Regions from separate parts of the Homo sapiens genome. Here region 1 is linked to region 2. A link means that fine-mapping ties the variant in region 2 to the expression of a gene that starts in the linked region. Tissue or cell type: whole blood. Region 2 holds a variant in brackets; the other region holds the start of a gene. All regions are shown on one strand. Distances are from middle to middle.

The links. PIP is the estimated chance that this variant, and not a neighbour inherited with it, causes the effect.
Region 1: it holds the start of THOC2, and the variant in region 2 is fine-mapped to the expression of THOC2 in whole blood (TOPMed, PIP 0.97).

The regions. Positions count from the first base shown.
Region 1 is chrX:123,728,436-123,737,743 of GRCh38, forward strand. THOC2 (THO complex subunit 2) reads right to left here and starts at 4,617. Exons shown (of 39, transcript NM_001081550.2): 1 at 4,517-4,617. The coding sequence starts at 4,587. RefSeq lists an enhancer at 4,553-4,632.
Region 2 is chrX:123,595,406-123,606,299 of GRCh38, forward strand. It overlaps THOC2 (THO complex subunit 2), which reads right to left. Exons shown (of 39, transcript NM_001081550.2): 39 at 5,164-5,933. It also overlaps the pseudogene FERP1. Among named protein-coding and RNA genes, the nearest start is that of THOC2, 130 kb to the right of the region's middle. The variant G/C (reference allele first, on the strand shown) is at 5,965.

The DNA.
Region 1 (9,308 bases), 130 kb after region 2:
GACTAAGACTTATACTTAGCTTATGAATACAGGTCGAAATGGGAAATTAAATGCTAAATGAAAACTGAGACATCAAGAAAAGGTTTCAGATAAAGCTTTGGCTGAATTTGGAGCAACTTTGCGAGGAAAAAAGACTCAACCACCAAGACTAAAATTTCTTAGAATGATTATATCCCTTTACCTGGAATCCTCCAAGAAATTCAGATCAGATGGCATGTTCTGAACAACCAAATATACTTAAATAAGTTCTAGAATGTCTAAAATCATGTAGTAGCAGAAGAAGAAAAAGAACAACAATCAAAACATTTGGCAATTAAATTTTAAAACTTTATTGTAACTACCATTAATAAGGTAAGACCTAACAAAACTTTCTAATTGATACCTAAATAAGCTATTCAAACAAACAGATGATATTCAACAAACGTAAGTATTTCAAAATTAGACTAAGTATTAACATGAGGCTAGCATCTTCAGATTAAGAGCTTCGAATATCAATTCTCCATTAAGGTTGCCTGTAACAAAGAAATGCTGAGTTCACTGTGTTAATGATTTCTACCAAAAACAGAATTCTACACTGGATCTACCAGTACATGCAAGTTTATTAGCTTCATCATGGCAAGTTCTACGTCAATATAAAATAATCAAGAAACTAAAACTAATTCCAAAATTAAGTGATTAAATACATATCTTTCAGAATTTGGAAGAGTTTGCATTTAGATATAAGTATTATTGGAAATTACAATTACATTTTGGTAGTCCTCCTTTGCCCTTCTGATCCCTCTTTAAGATCACTTTAAAGGTCACTCTTTAAGAGTTCTATAATTTAGCATTAAAAACATAATTGGTATCTCTGGAAACATAATGGGATATCTAGATATGTGATGGATGGACCATTCAGATAGGCAAAATACAGTTTTACTTTTCTCTCTAATTACCTAATAAAACATTCTTCAAAGTCAAGACCTTCCATTTAATAGACAGTTGTTTTTCATGGCGTACAGTTAAGAATTTGCCCTATCTGAAAGTTATAAAATGCCCCATACATCTCTTATGTTGCTTTCAACACTAGCTGACTACCACCCCCAGAAAAGATTTATGCTGGTAAGAAGTGACAGACAAGAAATGAATTAACAACCTCATGAAATATATCACATTATTTTTAAAAAGATAATTTTCAGTCAAGTTAAAGCTTATCTGCTAATTTATCTTGTTAAAAAGGAAAAATTCACCCAAGGTATAATTTTAAATATTGGTCATATTCTAAACGCCAAATCTATAGCTTCACTAATAATGTGGTGGCACACTACCTTCATTTTTAACATTTCCAGTTGCTGTTTTATATTTCAGAAGCTGTTTTCAGACAAAGGAAAAAGGTTTTTTGTAATATATTTGCACCACCACGTATTCTGCCTAGTAATATGAAAATGCTAACACCTATCTTTAGGAAGACACAAAAACTCCAAAGACATGCTATATGCAACAAAGTTTCATAGAGGGAAAACAGGTCAAATAAACTGAAACTAAGTACTGGATGGTGATGTGTTTAACTATTTAAAATAGCTTATTATGTTACACAATTTTAAATTCTCTTCCTGTAACAGAATGCAATCATAAAACTGACTATACTGATTTGGATCTACTATAATTCAATCCACATTCCACAAGTCATGCAATAACTACATACACGTAAGTTCTAATAACAGGTTTTTTTGCTGTTGTTTTTGGTTTGTTTTTGTTTGGGTTTTTGTTTTTTTTTTTTTTTTAAAGAGTTTCGCTCTTGTTACCCATGCTGGAGTGCAACAGCGCGATCTCCGCTCACCGCAACTTCCGCCTCCCAGATTCAAGCGATTCTCCCGCCTCAGCCTCCTGAGTAGCTGGGATTACAGGCATGTGCCACCACGCTCGGCAAATTTTGTACTTTTAGTAGAGATGGGGTTTCTCCATGTTGGTCAGGCTTGTCTGGAACTCCTGACCTCAGGTGATCCACCCGCCTCGGCCTCCCAATTTGCTGGGATTACAGGCGTGAGCCACCACGCTCGGCTTCTAATAACAGTTTTTAAGCAGCTCTTCAAACATAAGAACTATGACAGATAGCATGTATTATGTAAATATACATAATGTGAACCTAAAATTCCATTTTATCTAAGTATTTCGATCTCCTACATCACTTTTTCTCAAACCATTACCAGTCAGAAGCCAAGCAGAATTTCACCTTATAGCCCTAATACCACTCATGCTAAGGTGGCAGCAATAATAGTAAAACTGTTGGGAGGCCGAGGTGGGCGGATCACCAGGTCAGGAGATGGAGACCATCCTGGATAACACGGTGAAACTCCGTGTCTAGTAAAAATACAAAAAATTAGCCGGGCGTGGTAGCACGCGCCTGTAGTCCCAGCTACTCAGGAGGCTGAGACAGGAGAATCGCTTGAACGTGGGAGGCGGAGGTTACGGTGAGCCGAGATCGCGCCACTGCACTCCAGCCTGGGCGACAGAGCGAGACTCCGTCTCAAGGGGGAAAAAAAAAAGTAAAACTGTCAAAAAACAGTAGCTGAAAGGAGGAAGCTGAGCAATCTACAAACATAACAGCCCCTAAATAAATGAGCTGGCTTTGAAAGTAAACAAAACAATGAACTGCTTTTATCAGTTTTGGGGGATTACCCTAATATCGATGAAGATGATGGTCTGGCTGGGTAACTTCCCATCTTGCCTTCCCCAAACTTGATGGCTATTTGTCAACTAGCTATCAAACTTGACAGCTATTTGTTAACTAGCACATACGAGGATTTGTAAAATGTTCATTATAGTTAAAAACGAAGATTTATCAAATAGCCTTCTCTGACAATTAATAAACCAATAAGCATTCTAAGCATAGGCTGGGGGGGCGGGGCATGTGTTAAACCAAAAGAAATATGAGACATAGTCCCTATATTTCAAAGGCCTCCCAATTCATTACAGTGCAAGAATAAACACACATGAATAAGTCAGAGACCAATTAATTGCTAACCTGAGTGGTACAGACTTTAAGTGCATGAGCTGTCCTGAGAAGTTTAAATATCTAAAGGTTGGAATAATATTACTTTTAATAGCTATCACTTGAGCACTTACTATAAGCCAAGTGCTTTACAGGCATTATTTAGTCTTCACAACAATCCTTTGAGTAGAGTACTTATTATTCCCAATTTACTCAAGGGGAAACAGTCCAAGTGGTTAAGGAACTTACCCAAGGTCACTCAGCTACTTAAGTGGCTAAGACAGCCGCTTATTTAGGGAATTCTAGAGCTCACACTGTTAAGACTTCATACAGCAGTGCGGGGGGTGCGGGGGAGGAAGCCACATAGGCTGGCACTATTACAAGCGCGGGATCCGGCAACGCGTTCCTCGTGTTTCGTTCCAAGTAACGAAGTTACAAAGATTTGAATCTTTAGCATGAGCCACGGTAAACTGGCTACTAGAAATGGAGAGGGGTGGGCAAGGACGACAAAAATGGCTAACGAGGGTTAATTTCATCCAGGGTTGAGCTTTAGCATCTAAAAGCGACCCAGAGAAGGAAATGAGATGTTATTAATATTTGTTCTTATATCTGAGGTTTGCTTTGCTGCTTAAACGACTCCTTCCAGGGGAAGGGGAGGAGGGAGCGCTCTAACGTGGGGGCGAGAAGACTAGGGGTATGGCAAATTACTGTTTTCGGTGTTACGGGGGAAAGTTTCACGACTAAAGGAAACGCGTTATCCTAGGTACTGGAGAAGCTTGGAGAGCTGCCAGAATTAGTTGCAGTCCCAGGATAAAATGGGGTTTAGGGAACATTTAATGACGAAAGTTGAATCCAACCCGAAATAGCTCTAAGGTGAAAAGACGGAGCAAAGAAATGTCGGTGGTTCTTCAGGGAAAGCGGCAATCCCTGCCACACTTCCCCACGGCGCTACGCGAGGCCGGGACAGTCGAGAGACCGCTCCCCGGGAGGGCGAGAGGTGCCAAACCGGGTTCTTCGCGGCGCCCCGGGCTTCGCGGCAGCGGGCGAAGAGGAGGGGAGGGGAATCCGGGACGGTTCGCCCTCCTTGGACTTCAGGCAGAGGAGGCGCCAAGCTCCAAACTGCGGAGTCCAACGGGTGCAGAGTGAAGAAATGGCACAGAGAGAGATGGAAAGTCCGAATTGCCCCGGCTCAGCCCCATAAAGATAAAGGAGCCAAGTGAGATCAAGCGAAGAGGGGGACACAAAAAGAGACCAAGAGGGAGCGCGGAGACCTGCAGGGGCGGAATAAGAGTTCTACTAAGAGGCTAAAGGAAGCCGAGCTACCGCAGGCAGTAGCGATTTCTGGGAGGCCAGGGAAGGAAGGAGGTCCGCGGCGGTAAACAGCACCTCTCCCCGAGTTCGAAACTCCTAGACGACCATCCACGCCCGCCGCCCGGGTGGGGGAGGGGGTACATCTTTCCCCCTCAACCTCCCACTACAGGTGAGAGTGCAGCTGACGCCCTGGCCCGGCCCGGCAGTGCGCCTGCCTCCGGCCCGAACACTCACAATTCGCCTCTCCCTGATTTCTCCCAGTTCTTTATCCACTCTGCGGGAACCACCACAGCCGCGGCCGCCATCTTCCTCTCACTAGTAGCAGAAGCCCGGATGTGTAGCACGCGAGCGAAGGGTCAAAGGGGAGCACCGCCCACGAGGAATGCCGGGAGCTGAGAGTTCGTTTTTCGATTTCCCGCCCCACTTTCCTCTCCACCCAGCGGAAACCCGAGGCAAGGCAGCCAACGACGTGGAGACTCGCGGGCCCCTTTGCGAGGTTACTACACGGGTTGCGCCCTCCGAAGTCTTCGGCCTTACTTCCCATTAGAACAGAGAAATGCCATCCACAGGCCAACAAGTAGACTTCATCTTCTTCCGTAATATCTACCCCTAACCACTAATACAAACACGCATTTTTCAAGCACCTAATATGTGCTAGACACTGGGAATAGAGAAATAATAGTCTTTGGGAAAGCCATAAATATAAGCAAATAAATTACATTACGCCCTGCTGACTGCTGAGATAAAAGAAAATAATCGGGTCCCTCTCCTTCTCCCTCTCCCTCTCCCGTCTCCCTCTCCCGTCTCCCTCTCCCCACGGTCTCCCTCTCCCTCTCTTTCCACAGTCTCCCTCTGATGCCGAGCCAAAGCTGGACTGTACTGCCATCTCGGCTCACTGCAACCTCCCTGCCTGATTCTCCTGCCTCAGCCTGCCGAGTGCCTGCGATTGCAGGTGCGCGCCGCCACGCCTGACTGTTTTTCGTATTTTTTTGGTGGAGACGGGGTTTCGCTGTGTTGGCCGGGCTGGTCTCCAGCTCCTAACCGCGAGTGATCCGCCAGCCTCGGCCTCCCGAGGTGCCGGGATTGCAGACGGAGTCTCGTTCACTCAGTGCTCAATGGTGCCCAGGCTGGGGTGCAGTGGCGTGATCTCGGCTCGCTGCAACCTCCACCTCCCAGCCGCCTGCCTTGGCCTCCCAAAGTGCCGAGATTGCAGCCTTTGCCCGGCCGCCACCCCGTCTGGGAAGTGAGGAGCCTCTCTGCCTGGCCGCCCATCGTCTGGGATGTGAGGAGCCCCTCTGCCTGGCTGCCCAGTCTGGAAAGTGAGGAGCGTCTCTGCCCGGCCGCCATCCTGTCTAGGAAGTGAGGAGCGTCTCTGCCCGGCTGCCCATCGTCTGGGATGAAGTGAGGAGCGTCTCTGCCTGGCCGCCCATCGTCTGAGATGTGGGGAGTGCCTCTGCCCCGCCGCCCCGTCTGGGATGTGAGGAGCGCCTCTGCCCGGCCGCGACCCCGTCTGGGAGGTGAAGAGCGTCTCTGCCCGGCCGCCCCGTCTGAGAAGTGAGGAGACCCTCCGCCCGGCAGCCGCCCCGTCTGAGAGGTGAAGAGCGTCTCCGCCCGGCCGGCCGCCCCGTCCGGGAGGGAGGTGGGGGGGTCGGCCCCCCGCCCGGCCGGCCGCCCCGTCCGGGAGGTGACGGGCGCCTCTGCCCGGCCGCCGCTACTGGGAAGTGAGGAGCCCCTCTGCCCGGCCACCACCCGGTCTGGGAGGTGTACCCAACAGCTCATTGAGAACGGGCCATGATGACAATGGCGGTTTTGTGGAATAGAAAAGGGGGAAAGGTGGGGAAAAGATTGAGAAATCGGATGGTTGCTGTGTCTGTGTAGAAAGAGGTAGACATGGGAGACTTTTCATTTTGTTCTGTACTAAGAAAAATTCTTCTGCCTTGGGATCCTGTTGATCTATGACCTTACCCCCAACCCTGCGCTCTCTGAAACATGTGCTGTGTCCACTCAGGGTTAAATGGATTAAGGGCGGTGCAAGATGGGCTTTGTTAAACAGATGCTTGAAGGCGGCAGGCTCGTTAAGAGTCATTACCACTCCCTAGTCTCAAGTACCCAGGGACACAAACACTGCAGAAGGCCGCAGGGTCCTCTGCCTAGGAAAACCAGAGATCTTTGTTCACTTGTTTATCTGCTGACCTTCCCTCCACTATTGTCCTATGACCCTGCCAAATCCCCCTCTGCGAGAAACACCCAAGAATGATCAATAAAAAAAAAAAAAAAAGTCAACAGAAAAAAAAAAAAAAAAAAGGAAGGAAAACTTTCCAGAAGAGAGATGTGTCTAGCACAAGAGAAGAGGAATAGTCCTGAGCCTGGAGGATTATTTTGCAGGAATCTCACAGGGCAGTTCCTAATGCAGGAGAATTAAAATAGGCTTTTCCTGGTGTATTTCTTGCAAACATTTTGGGCCAAGTGGCCTTCCCACACCCTCACATGAGCCTGCTTCCCTCCCACTCCTCTGTCATCAGGGCATTTCTGTTTAGGAACAGCAGGTCTAATATTGACTTAAATAAAGCAGACTTGACAGAAAAAAAAAAAAAAAGAAAGAAAGAAAATGTGGCACATATACACCATGGAATACTATGCAGCCATAAAAAATGATGAGTTCATGTCCTCTGTAGGGACATGGATGAAGCTGGAAACCATCATTCTCAGCAAACTATCACAAGGACAAAAAACCAAACACCTCATGTTCTCATTCATAGGTGGGAATTGAACAATGAGAACACTTGGACACAGGAAGGGGAACATCACACACCGGGGTCTGTTGTGGGGTGGGGGGCGATAGCATTAGGATATATACCTAATGTAAATGACGAGTTAATGGGTGCAACACACCAACATGGCCCATGTATACATATGTAACAAACCTGCACGTTGTGCACGTGTACCCTATAACTTAAAGTATAATAAAAAAATTAAAAAAAAAAAAAACACACGTTTGGCAGAAAATACAGACAATCCAAATGAAGAAATCCTACCCCACATATGAACTTTAGAGCTAGTATCTTCTAAATATGGCAAGTTTTGTCAAATGAACCAGGTTCATTTGCATTGAAAAACTATTTAAGTTATGTGCTGTATTCAGAACTGGTTCTGGGAAAATGCTCCATTGTTTATGATTGTTTTTCACCAGCTGTATCTAGTCTTCTAGTGTCCTGTCTCACTTTGAAATTCTAAAGCCACCCACTAGAAAATATCCACCTATTAACTTCAGTGATTTCTGCTTGTAAAAACCTTCTGCCGTTTTGAGGAGGATCAAATATAGAAGTGCCCTCTAATCTTTTCATGTTTCCTTATTATGGACAATTTAAAATGTATACAAAGCAAACAGAATGATACAGTGAATCTTCATGTACCATCATCCTTCCTGGAAAACTTTGAAGTCATTATTACAAGACGGCTTCTGTGATACAAGAAGCACTATCTTGCTACTTATGTATACTTCTCTGTGTAGTCTACAGCAAGGACTTTCAACCTGGGTCAGATAATTTTTTGTGGGGATAGGGGGGATGGGGGCCAGGGGGCAGGGGTCCTCTGCATTGTAGAATGTTTAGCAACATCTCTGGCCTTGACTCACTAGATGTCAGTAGCAGCCCCCATACACACACACACACACACACACACACACACACCCACACCAGTTATTACAACCGTTTCCAGACATTGCTAAATGTCTCCTGGAGGGCAAAACAGTCCCCTTTTGAGAACCACTGAGCTACAGTATTCTCCTGTACTGTGGCTTACCTTGCCACGTATCACAGTGATTTCTTCTTCCAAACATTGAACTGTGCAGTATGCATAGTAATCAGTATGTCACACTTGTGGTATGACCTGAGTGCAATGATGCCCTTTGAGGCCTGGTTTTCCCTTCTTCCAGAAACTGCAGAACTATTTTTACATGGTATGATGACTCCTTTAGGAATTACTCAGAGCTAATTGGCTTTTTGATCTATAAGATTGCAAAGCTATTAAATCTTCTGCATCCTTGTTGTTGGCTTGCCTGCTCTTTGCTATCAGCATCTGGTATTATCTCAGCAGCTGGGGGGATTTTTCCCTGGTGATCTCACAAGCTCATGGATACCAATGTGCTATTCAGGGACTGAGGTCTGTGGTGGAGGCCAGGGATTGGGTAGTTTCAATGTTGACAGTCTGATGCATGGAATGATAGGTTGATTTTAGGTTACTGTAAGGTCAAGCAATCTTATAACTTACCATCTCAGTGAAGACAAATAATGGGACCAAAAAGGAAGCACATAAAAGCAAAACAAGACAAAATAACAAAATAATTAAAGAATGAATGCAAAGGGTTTTTTGAGATTTAAAATGAAGAAAAGTTCTTTAGAATAAGCTACTTGATAACTTCTGCATTTTATGCTAAGGCTGTTTATGCCAAACCAATCTACTTGTCTCCTTCCTGTCTACAGTGCTCCTTTGGTAAAAACAAGATCTTTTCTTTTTCTTTTTCTTTTTCTTTTTCTTTTTCTTTTTCTTTTTCTTTTTCTTTTTCTTTTTCCTCCCACTTCAGCCTCCCAAACAGCTGGGACTAAAGGCACTCACCACCACACCCGGCTAATTTTTGTATTTTTTGTAGAGGCAGCCCAGACTGGTCTCAAACTCCTGAGCTAAAACGATCTGCCCACCTCGGGCTCCCAAAGTGCTGGGATTACAGGCGTGAGTCACTGTGCCCCACTGAAATCTAGCTATTTTTAAGGGACATCCCTAAAACACAGGGACACAAGAAGTTTGAAAGTGAAATGATGGGGCAAATACACCAGCCAAATACTAATATCAACAAAAATTAAGCTGTTGTAACTTAATTTCTTTTGTCTTTTAATTTCTTCTTGATATTAAGGTAAATATCAGATAAAATAGACTTTAAAAGAAAAATAAGTCCGGGTGCGGTGGCTCGTGCCTGTAATCCCAGCACTTTGGGAGGCCGAGGAGGGCAGATCACGAGGTCAGGAGATCG
Region 2 (10,894 bases):
GCTTGCTGACAATATACAGCTAGTCTAACAAGAGGTGAGATTCAGAAAGGTCAGTGAAGGAAGGCTGGAAAAGTCAGGGGGTCCATGAACAAGAGTAGCACGGGCTAGCAAAGTTGATAAACTCTGATACCAGGACAGAGGCTATTGCCATTGATTTGAAAATATTCCTTTCTAGGCATGGGTTGTCTCTGGGACATAATATACTTATCACCTCCAGAAATAAGAAGTCTCTGAGTTTTGTCCAAAATTAAGAACTGAGATGCGGGGATTGTGTGCTGGTTTAACTCCGTAATTCCCAAATATTATCCCTACTTTGGAATCACCTGAGGAACTGTTTGTAGAAAATACTCCAGGTCCCTACTCTAAGAAAATCTGATTCAATATACTTGATGTGGGGACCTCCAAAAGTTTCTCAATTCATTCTAATGATTCTCAGTTTGGAAAGTACTGGTATGAATACTACCACTAATAACAACAACTGCTACTAGTTATTGAGTACCTGCCAGGTACTAGGTCCTGTTTTAGGTGCTTGACATGTATTGTTAGATTTAATTCATTAGCAGAAGGGCATTGTGAAGATCAAGTGAGACAGTGTAAGAAGTTTCAGTGGAGTTCATCCCCACTCAGAGGAATACAAATGGACAAGGAAAGTCATCTTGACATAGAGACGACAACTTTTTAATTACCTGTAAAGACATGAAAAATGTAATTAACACTGATTAAAGCAATAAAAAGACTGATGATGTCAGGGGTTAAGACCAAAAAAAGGGGAAAATATTGAGGCAGTTAAGGAAAAGTACCCAAAGAGGTAGAGAGCATTTGTCTCTCAAATCTGATCTATTCCTGGGCTGGTATAACAAATTGGCTTCAAAGATTCTGCATAATACCAGAATTGTTCAGAATTCCAAGTTCAACATTCACTCTCCGCCAGTGCCAACTTAGAGTTAAACGAGACCCCAAAAGACCTATACCTTCTAGGTCTAAGGAGAAAGCAATTGGCTTCCTTAGAGTCCAAATCCTTTATAAAATTTTCCTAGACGAACCTGTTGTGGACAAAAACTTCTCAAATCACACTCAGTCTGAGGTAATTCTTACCGAGTATTCACCAACCTCTTAAAATGTACCTGGTCCCCAGCTGCATGTGGTATGGATACCTTACTCATTTTACATATTGTTTCTTGCTTAGCATGTTTGTCTGTCTTACTGATGTCTTGGATCAATTATTCCAGAAAGCAGAAAAGATGCTGTTTAATAGTGCCTAGCAATGGCGTATCCAATTACAATTCAGAAGTGTTCTTTGATAATGATGATATATGTAATAGGAAATAAGTACTATTACATACCACATGAAATTAGGATCAAGAAAGCCTTGAACAAAGTACAGTATCATTCTGGCTAAAATATAAGAAAATTTTTTGAGGACAGAGGTAATAATAGCTGTCTATTGGTCTGATACTCGAGCCCAAGGACATCTAGCTGTCATCTAACAAAAATCAGAGGTCCAACTAAGCTAGAGGTTAAGTGCCAGGTCATTTTCTAGCTCCTATCCATGAAATGAAGGCTATTTCTGATCTGCAATTATGTATTTCTCAAGCTTATGTGCCCTGTGCCCAATCAGAATCATCTCTGTTCCCTCTCCTTCCTCTATTAACCACATCCATTTAGCAACACATCAAAGGAATTAAGCTTTTTAAGCCTGATCCATTTAGAAATGGCCATTCATTACAGCTTAAAACAGTACCTAAGAATCAGGAACAAAAACAGAATTTTTTACATTAAGGTTTATTTTCTCAGGTTGCCACACTTCCTTTAATCACTACTTCCAATATCCCTCCTTTTGTTGTTCTTATGTCTACTTCTGTCTATAAATAGAAGAAAATCTGTGTTCAGTTAGCATGAATTACCATCTTTTATGCAGCTCCTCTTTTTATTCTCAACTCTGGACCCAATAAAATCTCCTTGGCCCTGAAAGATAGTGTCTCTAGAAATGTTACTTCAATTTTTAAAACTTAATCATTTACAAGATAAGCGGATCACTTGAGGTCAGGAGTTCGAGACCAGCCTGGCCAACATGGTGAAACCCTGTCTCTACCGAAAATACAAAAATTAGCCGTGTGTGGTGGCACGTGCCTGTAATTCAGGCTATTCGGGAAGCTGAGGCAAGAGAATCTCTTGAGCCTGTGAGGTGGAGGCTGCCGTGAGCCAAGATCGCACCACTGCACCCCAGCATGGGCAACAGTGAGACCCTGTTTCAAAAAAAACAGAAACAAACAAAAACTTAAGCATTTAAACCACATTTCTGATAAGTATTGAGATAGAATATTGAAGTTACAGTATAATAAGCTTCATTCTATCTAAGAGGCAGCCTTAGAGATCACCATCCATAAAAATGAAACAAAGGGCAGGCAAAGCTTTTACACTAAAGAGGTCTTGTTCATATTACTTGTATTATGGGAACCAAACAACAGTCGCATGAGTTTCCTAATCTTTACAAACATACTTACAAAAAACAAGGCTATAATAAATCCCAGTTTACAAACCCTGTCCCAAATATTTAAAAATATTTTCCTGGACTGAAACAAATCATCAGAGACCTGCATGCCTGGACCGCATGTTCCGGTGTCATTGTAGAAATAACCTTACTAGAATGAACTAAGGTGTTGGCCATCGGGTAATACTCAAGACCATTTAAAAGACACATTCCTTTGTTTTATCCACTGAAAAGACATGACTGCTTTGTGAATGCAAAGAAGTTTCTTTCAGGCCTCGGTGCCAGGAAACATTCTTCTCTGCTGCAACTAGCTTTATATTTGATGGACACTAGTTCCTATAACTAACCACATTACCTTCTCTTTGTGGCCTGCCAGTTTCTCCATGGCCCACTTGTACATGACATTTTGGGGCAATAGCTTCATTTAGGTTACTAATTTCACCCAGAAACAAATTTTCTCATTTAAAGATACTGTACTATGTTTTTTTTTTTTTCATAAATCCTTTTTGGATCATAGTAGGGTAGAAATAAATCAATTACATAATTGTCCTAAAAAAAAAAAAAGGCTACTAGGATGTCTGCCCATACTTGGCTAAAGTACCTCCTTAAAAGAGGAAATGGCCCGCATGGACCAGTTACTTTCCAACAAATTGCAAATCACTTGTAGATTATTTGCCAAGGCAAGAAAGGCTGCTGCTCTAACTTTAGCCCCTACCATTTAATCCAAGGTAGATAGACAACTGCCTTCCACCTTCTCACCATCCCCAAAAAGATTCAGAGTTAGTTATAAAGGTCTCAAACACCTTTGGAACAAGACCCATTAAAACAAACTTACCACCTTAGGCTTATTTTCTTGAGAATCTGGCAAAAGCTATAGACTCAGAAAAGTGTACATAACACAAACTTGTACCCAATTTCTGGGATTCTGGAAGGCCCATAAATACCCCCCAAGCTCATTCATGAGCCTTTAGTCAAGAACTCCTTTCTAGAAAATGGCAAGCCTAGATGCCACCCACTAGAACAACAGAGAGAGAGAGAGAGAGATCCTGCATATTATGTTTATGTAAAAGGTTCAAAGATGGGTTGGGAATCACAGACAGATTATTCGGTAATAAAATATTCATACTGTAATAACTGCCTCAAAATGCCCTGCTTCGCTCATCTTCACTCCATAGTCACTGTGTAATCAGCAGTAAATTCGGCCTCACCCCAGTCTCCTTATCCAGGTTTATTCTTCCTCAGAGGACCTCCCTCCAAATAACATTATTTGTTTGTTGTCTGCCTCCACTGACTAGAATGGAAGTTCCATGAGGGCAGGGGTTTGTTTTGCTCATGGCTGTACCTCTGATACATAAGAGGCACTCAAATATTTCAATAGGTTTTTGGGGAACTAGTGGTGTTTGGTTACATGAATAAGTTCTTTAGTGGTGATTTCTGAGATTTTGGTGCACCCATCACCCAGGCAGTGTGCACTGTACCCAATGTGTGGTCTTTTATCCCTCACCCCTCTCCCACCCTCAAATATTTTTTAATGAATACCCTATAGGACTCTCTACTCTTTATAGAAGGGGTTGACAAACTACAGCCTGCAGGCCAAATCTAGGCTTCCACCTGTTTTTGTAAATAAACTTTTACTGAACTCAGCCATGCTTATTCACTTACATATTATTTATAACTGCATCAACACTACAATGGCAGAGCTTAGTAGTTGCAATGGGAACTACATGGCCTGCAAGGCCACAAATATTTACTATCTGGCCCTTTACAAAAAGTTTGCTGGCCCCCCATAGCATTCATTTGGTTCTTCTTTTCCAAACTAGATTGGAAGCACTCTCGAGACAGGTCTTATACTTCTTTGGACCTAGAACAGAGTAGATGCCCTAAAATAGCTAGCACTTTACAAACACAGATTTCCTACTTCCAACATACATTATTTTTACACAGTTAATCCAAAGATAGTATTTTCCATCATCAATGCATTTCTAGTAAGGCCAGAACTAATTACCTGTGTTTGATGATTTGGGGCAACACAGAGAAGGCATATTGATGCTATCTAATTAGTAAACTTTCTAGTTCAAAACCACAATCATGTAACCTTTAAAATATGAATGCATATTTAACAACTGGAAAGTTCTTCCTGATATCTTTCAGGCAAATAATTTTGAGGTAAGCCATAGTTATTTTCTCAAAGTCAAAAATCACTCTAACAAAACATCTATTTTTATGTCAGGCACATTATAAGCACTCAACAGTCACTGAATATATCACCCTCCCATAAATATTCTGCTCATCGATTTTTGCAAATTACAATTACCTGAAAAGAGACATCAAGATTTATACCCTTTTGCCAATTCATTTAAAATATGCTCAGTAATTCTCAATTCTTTAAAAAGTTATATCCTTTTTGTCATTCTCTGAAAATTTTAATTTGCATAGGTATCGTTTCCAAGGAACTGAAGACTAAATGGAAAAATCCAGGCATGCTACCAAGTCCACTGTTTACTCCAACTACAGAGGTAATCAAACAGGATATTTTCCTATTATTGGATGATATGTCACTGGAAAATAATGTAGCCCATGGAATAAGAACTGAGAAGGGCTAGGAACCTTAATGAATTATCTTTGCTAAGTTATTCTGAATAAGCAACAATATACACAATAATATACAACCATTTGAGAAAACTATTGTTTATTTAGAAAAAAGGTTACACTGGTAGAATTCGGCAGATAAAAAAATTCTCTTTTAAAAATGTCACTGTGAAACTTTTCCAGATGAAAGTTCAGCAATACAAAGCTCCTACAGCTGTAGAATTAAAACAATTATGTTTTGATCCCCCCGCCGCCAAGATTTGTCTAACATAATTACAAGAAAAAATGGCAAGGGACAAGTGATCGCTGGTACCTTTTTCTTTTTTAAACACGTTTAATGTTGTACATGTACTATATAAAATGATTCCTAAGCATTTCATAAGACAATGCTCCCACTGCTTTTAGTGACTAATATTAAGAACAAGCCAAATAATAAATTAAAACAGTTTTAAAATGAGGTAAAATCAAAAGGGTTCAACAATTGTTTATTTTCAGTTTCAAACAATAAAAAGGAAGCATTTCAGAATGGAAATAAAAACTGAACCCAGGCAATATTTAGTTAATCTAAAGTAAAACTCTGTACACAGGTAACCTTATGCAGCACATTGTGCTAAAAGTATGGAACAGTTAACACTTTCAGCCATTACTGAAAATAAACATGTAGAAACTAAGCAACAAGTTAAAATACAGTAATGCACAACTTAACAATTTTAAGTTTTCCACATGGAGCAATAAAGCAGGTAACTGAATAATTTAAGGAGATGCAAATGGCCCTCTTCATTCTTAATTCTCGGCAATTTACTCAGGAAAATAAATTTCTGGTCGCAGCCGAACAGTTCCAGTCCGATCTCACCTGAAAGAAACAAAGTGATTATATTGATAGA[G/C]AAGAAGGAAGGAAGGAAGGAAAGGAGGGAGTAGGGGAGGGAGGCTTAGTCAAAGGAGGTAGGAGAAAAGGAAGGGAGAAGGAGAGAAGGAGAATGAAAGGAGGAGGGAGGGAAGAAGGGAGGGAGGGAGGGAGGGGAGAAGAAAGGAAGAAGAAGAGAAGGAAGGAGAGGAAAAGGTAAGGAGGGAGGAAGATTTAAGAAAGAACAAGAAGTTAATGAGTTCCATCGGTAACAAAGACTTGAGTCCCCAGAAAAGGATGAAATATTTGTGTGTTTCTTTTTGTCCATTCTTAGAATCCATTAAAGATAAACACACTAATGATGACTTAAAAAAAAAATTGAACATTGTGTGCGTGTGGGAGAGAGGGGTGGGGGTAGGGAGAAAAAAATGGAGCAACAAGTAAAACATTCCACAACGGCAAGCAATAGCTTATTAAATAGAAAATGTAGCAAAGAAAAGTAACCTATTTTACATGATCAACAAAAAAAGGAAAATGACATCACATTTTTCACAAGGACACAATTTTAATAGTAACTTATATTAAGATGCAGTGTCTGCTAAATTATAAAAATTGCTTTAAAAATATATTGACTTAATTATACTCATTTCCTTTCCTTTATGTATTGACATTTTTCAAATACTTCATATTGAAATAATTTCAAAACATGATTATTACAACATGTGGCAAATATCTTCACATCTGCCTTCATTCAAATTTTAAGCTAATGCTTAATGCATTAAACTTTATTGATGAAAATACTACATTCACATATTTCTTAAAACCAGGGCTAGAAGGGTCCTTAGAAAATAATCACTTACATGAAATGCTGACAAATAATTTACATACCATTTCGACACAGCATTCTGTTCACACCATGTATAATCTTGATATTATCAATAACTGTGGATACATTTAATGTTGAACTTACAATTTAATACTTAAAAGCCATTGTTCCTGTCCATTAATTGCTGAATGGATAAATAAAATGTGGTACACACTCATACAATGAAACATCATTTAGCCATAAAAAGGAATGCAGTACTGATACATGCCACAACATGGATGAGCCTTGAGAACATGATGCTAAGTGAAAGCCAAACACAAAAGGCCACAAATTATTGCATAATTCCATTTAAATGAAATGTCCAAAACAGGCAAAATCACAGAGACAGAAAGTACATTACTGGTTTCCAGGGGCCGAGGAAGGGAAGAACTGGGAGTGACTGCTAATAGGCATGGAGTTTCTTTTTGGGGTGACAGAAATGCTCTGGAATTAGACAGCGGTGATGCTTGCACAACATAGTGGATATACTAAAAACCATTGAATTGTACACTTTAAAAATGGCAAGTTTGAGGCCAGGCGTCATGGCTCACGCTTATAATCCCAACACTTTGGGAGGCCGAGGCAGGTGGATCACCAGGTCAGGAGATCGAGACCATCCTGGCTAACACGGTGAAACCCCTATCTCTACTAAAAATACAAAAATTAGCCAGGCGTGGTGGTGCACGCCTGTAGTCCCAGCTACTCAGGAGGCTGAGGAAGGAGAATTGCTTGAACCCAGGAGGCGGAGGTCACAGTGAGCCGAGATCGCGCCACTGCACTCCAGCCTGGGAGACAACAGCGAGACTTGGTCTCCAAAAGAAAAAAAAAAAAGTGAAAGGTAAATTTGATGTTATATGAATTTTATCTCAATTGTTTAAATTGCAAAAAAAAAAAAAGTCAATGTTCCAATTAAGAGCATCATGGTATCACAGTATGGCCATTAGGAGAATAAGAAATGGGTTCTCAATCATAAAGGTGCCACGTTACAAGAGGCAAGGGAAATTTTGGTGACACATTTAAGGTCACATTAAAGGATAAAATTGCTGTTGCTGTTAAAACACGTCAAGAACGTCTTCCCCAGGAACTGAAATTAAAATTTTTACTAGAAGCCAAAATCCTCAAGCAATATAATCATCCCAGTAATGTCAAAAGTATAGGAGTTCACACACAAAGACGGCCTATCTACGTCATTAAGGAACTGGTTCCTGGAGGCGATTTCCTCTCCTTTCAGAGAAAGAAGAATGAACTAAAACTCAGTGAAATTTTCATTAGATGCTGATTCTGGATGGTGTATCTCGAGTAAAAAATGTATACACAGGGACCTTGCTGTAAGAAACTGCCTGGAGGTGAAAATAATGTTCTGAAAATCAGTGACTTTGGAATGTCTCGTCAAGAGGATGGTGGTGTGTACTCATCTTCTGACTTAAAGCAGATTCCCATTAAATGGACAGCACCAGAAGCTCTTAATTATGGGAGATATCATTCTGAGAGTGACGCACGGAGCTTTGGCATCCTCCTCTGGGAGACTTTCGGCTTAGGGGGTCTGTCCATAGCCTGGAATGACAAATCAGCAACCACAAGAGCAAGTGGAAAGAAGATACTGGATGTCAGTCTCTTGGCAGTGTCCACAGAGTATTTTAATAAAATAATGCTGAGGTGTTAGGATTACAAACTTGAAAACTGCCCCCAAGTTTACTGAACTTCAGAAAGAGCTAGCTGTCATCAAGAAGAAAGTTGCATAGTGATGAAGCAGTGCCAAACTCAGCCTTCAGGACTCTATTTTCAGCAAAGCAGTATTTTTCTTCTTATTAACATTTATACCACATTACCTGCAACATTCTCCTAAGTGTTTTATTAACTATTTTTTAATATGTACTGCTTTAACCATTGTAAATAAGAAAGTGTAAGTTCTGAATGTAAGGGATCACACAGATCTATCTTTTTCACATCTAGGACTGTTGCTGCTTCTCAAAAATTTTCTACTCCAGGCTCAGTTCATAGTCTGCTGTTCTCCATCACAGACACCTATTGGTGCTATAAGCTGTATTGGTAATATCACATACCACATTTGTAGGACACATCTCAACAGAAGATGGCCTTCCTACTCTGCTGAGACAAGATTATATGTGTGAACGCCATTTTATATTGGTAATTATCTGGACCTCCTGAGTTGTTTGTTTTTTTTTTTTCTTTTTGGCCAGAGATAGGTCCTGTTTTGTTAGTAAGACTGCCATTTCCCTATGTTTCACAATGCCGTCCTATGCACAAACATCCTCAAAGAGTTGAGGCAGCTGATTTTAACTGATGTTACAGAGAGCTGTGATAGCAAGAATCAAGTTTGAAAAGTAAGGTGGTCTGGAGAAAGGAACAGCTAGGGTGGTGATCAAAGTAGAGAAGAAAAGGCAAACATAAAACCAGCCTTCTTAACAGAGGTATGCCTTTATAAAACACATACACGCTTTTTAATTTTATGATCAAATTCACCAAAAAGGTCCTAAGAAATGTTTTAGTAGTTTATATAGATTCTTCATAAAAGAGCCCTCTGGATGGCAACCAAACAATTTTTAAGAGAAACTATAAAATCAAGCCCACCAAAATAATATATTATTTTTGGTTAAGTGTCTTCACTTCACAGGAAGCATCCCAGAACTGCATTCCATGCATTTTTACTAGTGTCTGAAACTGTCAGGATTTTATTCTCATTCTCTCGTTCTTTTCACATAAACCCCAGGTAGAAAGGCATATAAAGATGAACTTGACATTTAAAAAGTCAAACAAATATTTATAAGGAAGAAAGAAGTTATGAGAAAGACATGGGGACAGCCATCCTAAATCCACTTTACTCCTTCATTTACCCTTATACTGCAACCTAGGAATTCTTTATAGCAAACAGAGTTCCTGAGATGTTCCACGTGGATAAAATGTAACAGAGTTAAGACGTGGATTCTGTTGAGCTGAAACTTAACTGCACCCAGGGATGCTTTTCAGGATAATTATGTGTGTAGGGGAAAGACACACTCAGGGCAAATGTTGTATGGAAGCCTTTTATAAGTGCTCATGCCCATGTCAAAATTTTAAAAAACAGCATATAAATGAATATTTGCTCTACCGTAAGTGGAAGAGCAAGGAAATAGAAAATTTCTCCTGCCCTCTTCAACTTTTCATGCCTATGAATATCAGTGCACAAAACCTATACTCAGTATTTTTTTTAAGTATAAAAGTTGATAATGAAGACAGAAATGATTTGTGTCTGTCATTTCAAGCTCCTTACAAGAGTCTAGTATACATTTAATGGTTACTACATACAGACCAAAATGAGAGCATATTAAATCTGCCCTCAAAAAATATGCTGCAGCAAATAAGCAAGCTCTTTTAATCAGTATAGGTTCCCTTCCTATAAAATGGTGTGTTTGGTGGCAAAAAAAGTCAATGTTGCACTTATACAGAGATATTAAATGTTTCTCTGGCATCAATGTGAACATTGATGAGTTCCCTATCCCATACCCTTTACCAATACCTATCGTCAACATCTAGGAATAAGCCTCAGAATGGCAATGCATTCCTAAAACAAGAAATCTTCAGGAGCTTAGGAGGTCAGTTTCCAAGTATGAACTGAAGGGAAAACAAACAAACAAAAAAAGGCTTAGAGCTGGAATTACAAAATCAATTGTCTACAAAGGCCAAGAACGTGATGAAAACAAAAGAAACGAGCTGAGTGGGGACTGACGGAGGTGAACTGTTTTTAAAAAGGCCCTTGCTCTATTCTAAAGGGGGGCAGCACCTAGACAAGTCTAGCTGAAATCAGGACATAATGATGCTATGCAGAAATCAGAACACAATGTTACCAGATGTTCCAATCCTTCAAGAAAAACTGAAATTTGGATTTTGTCAATTCTGATTTTTAAAAACAAACAGATTTTTAAAATTTTGAAATATTGTGTGAGGTTAAGAAGGTGCATTTTGCTGGCGGTGGTGGCTCACATGTGTAATCGTACCACTTTGAGAGGCAGAGGCAGGAGGATTACTTGAGCCCATGAGTTCAATACCAGCCTGGGCAATATAGTGAGACCTCGTCTCTACAAAAAAAAAAAAAAAGAAAGAAAGA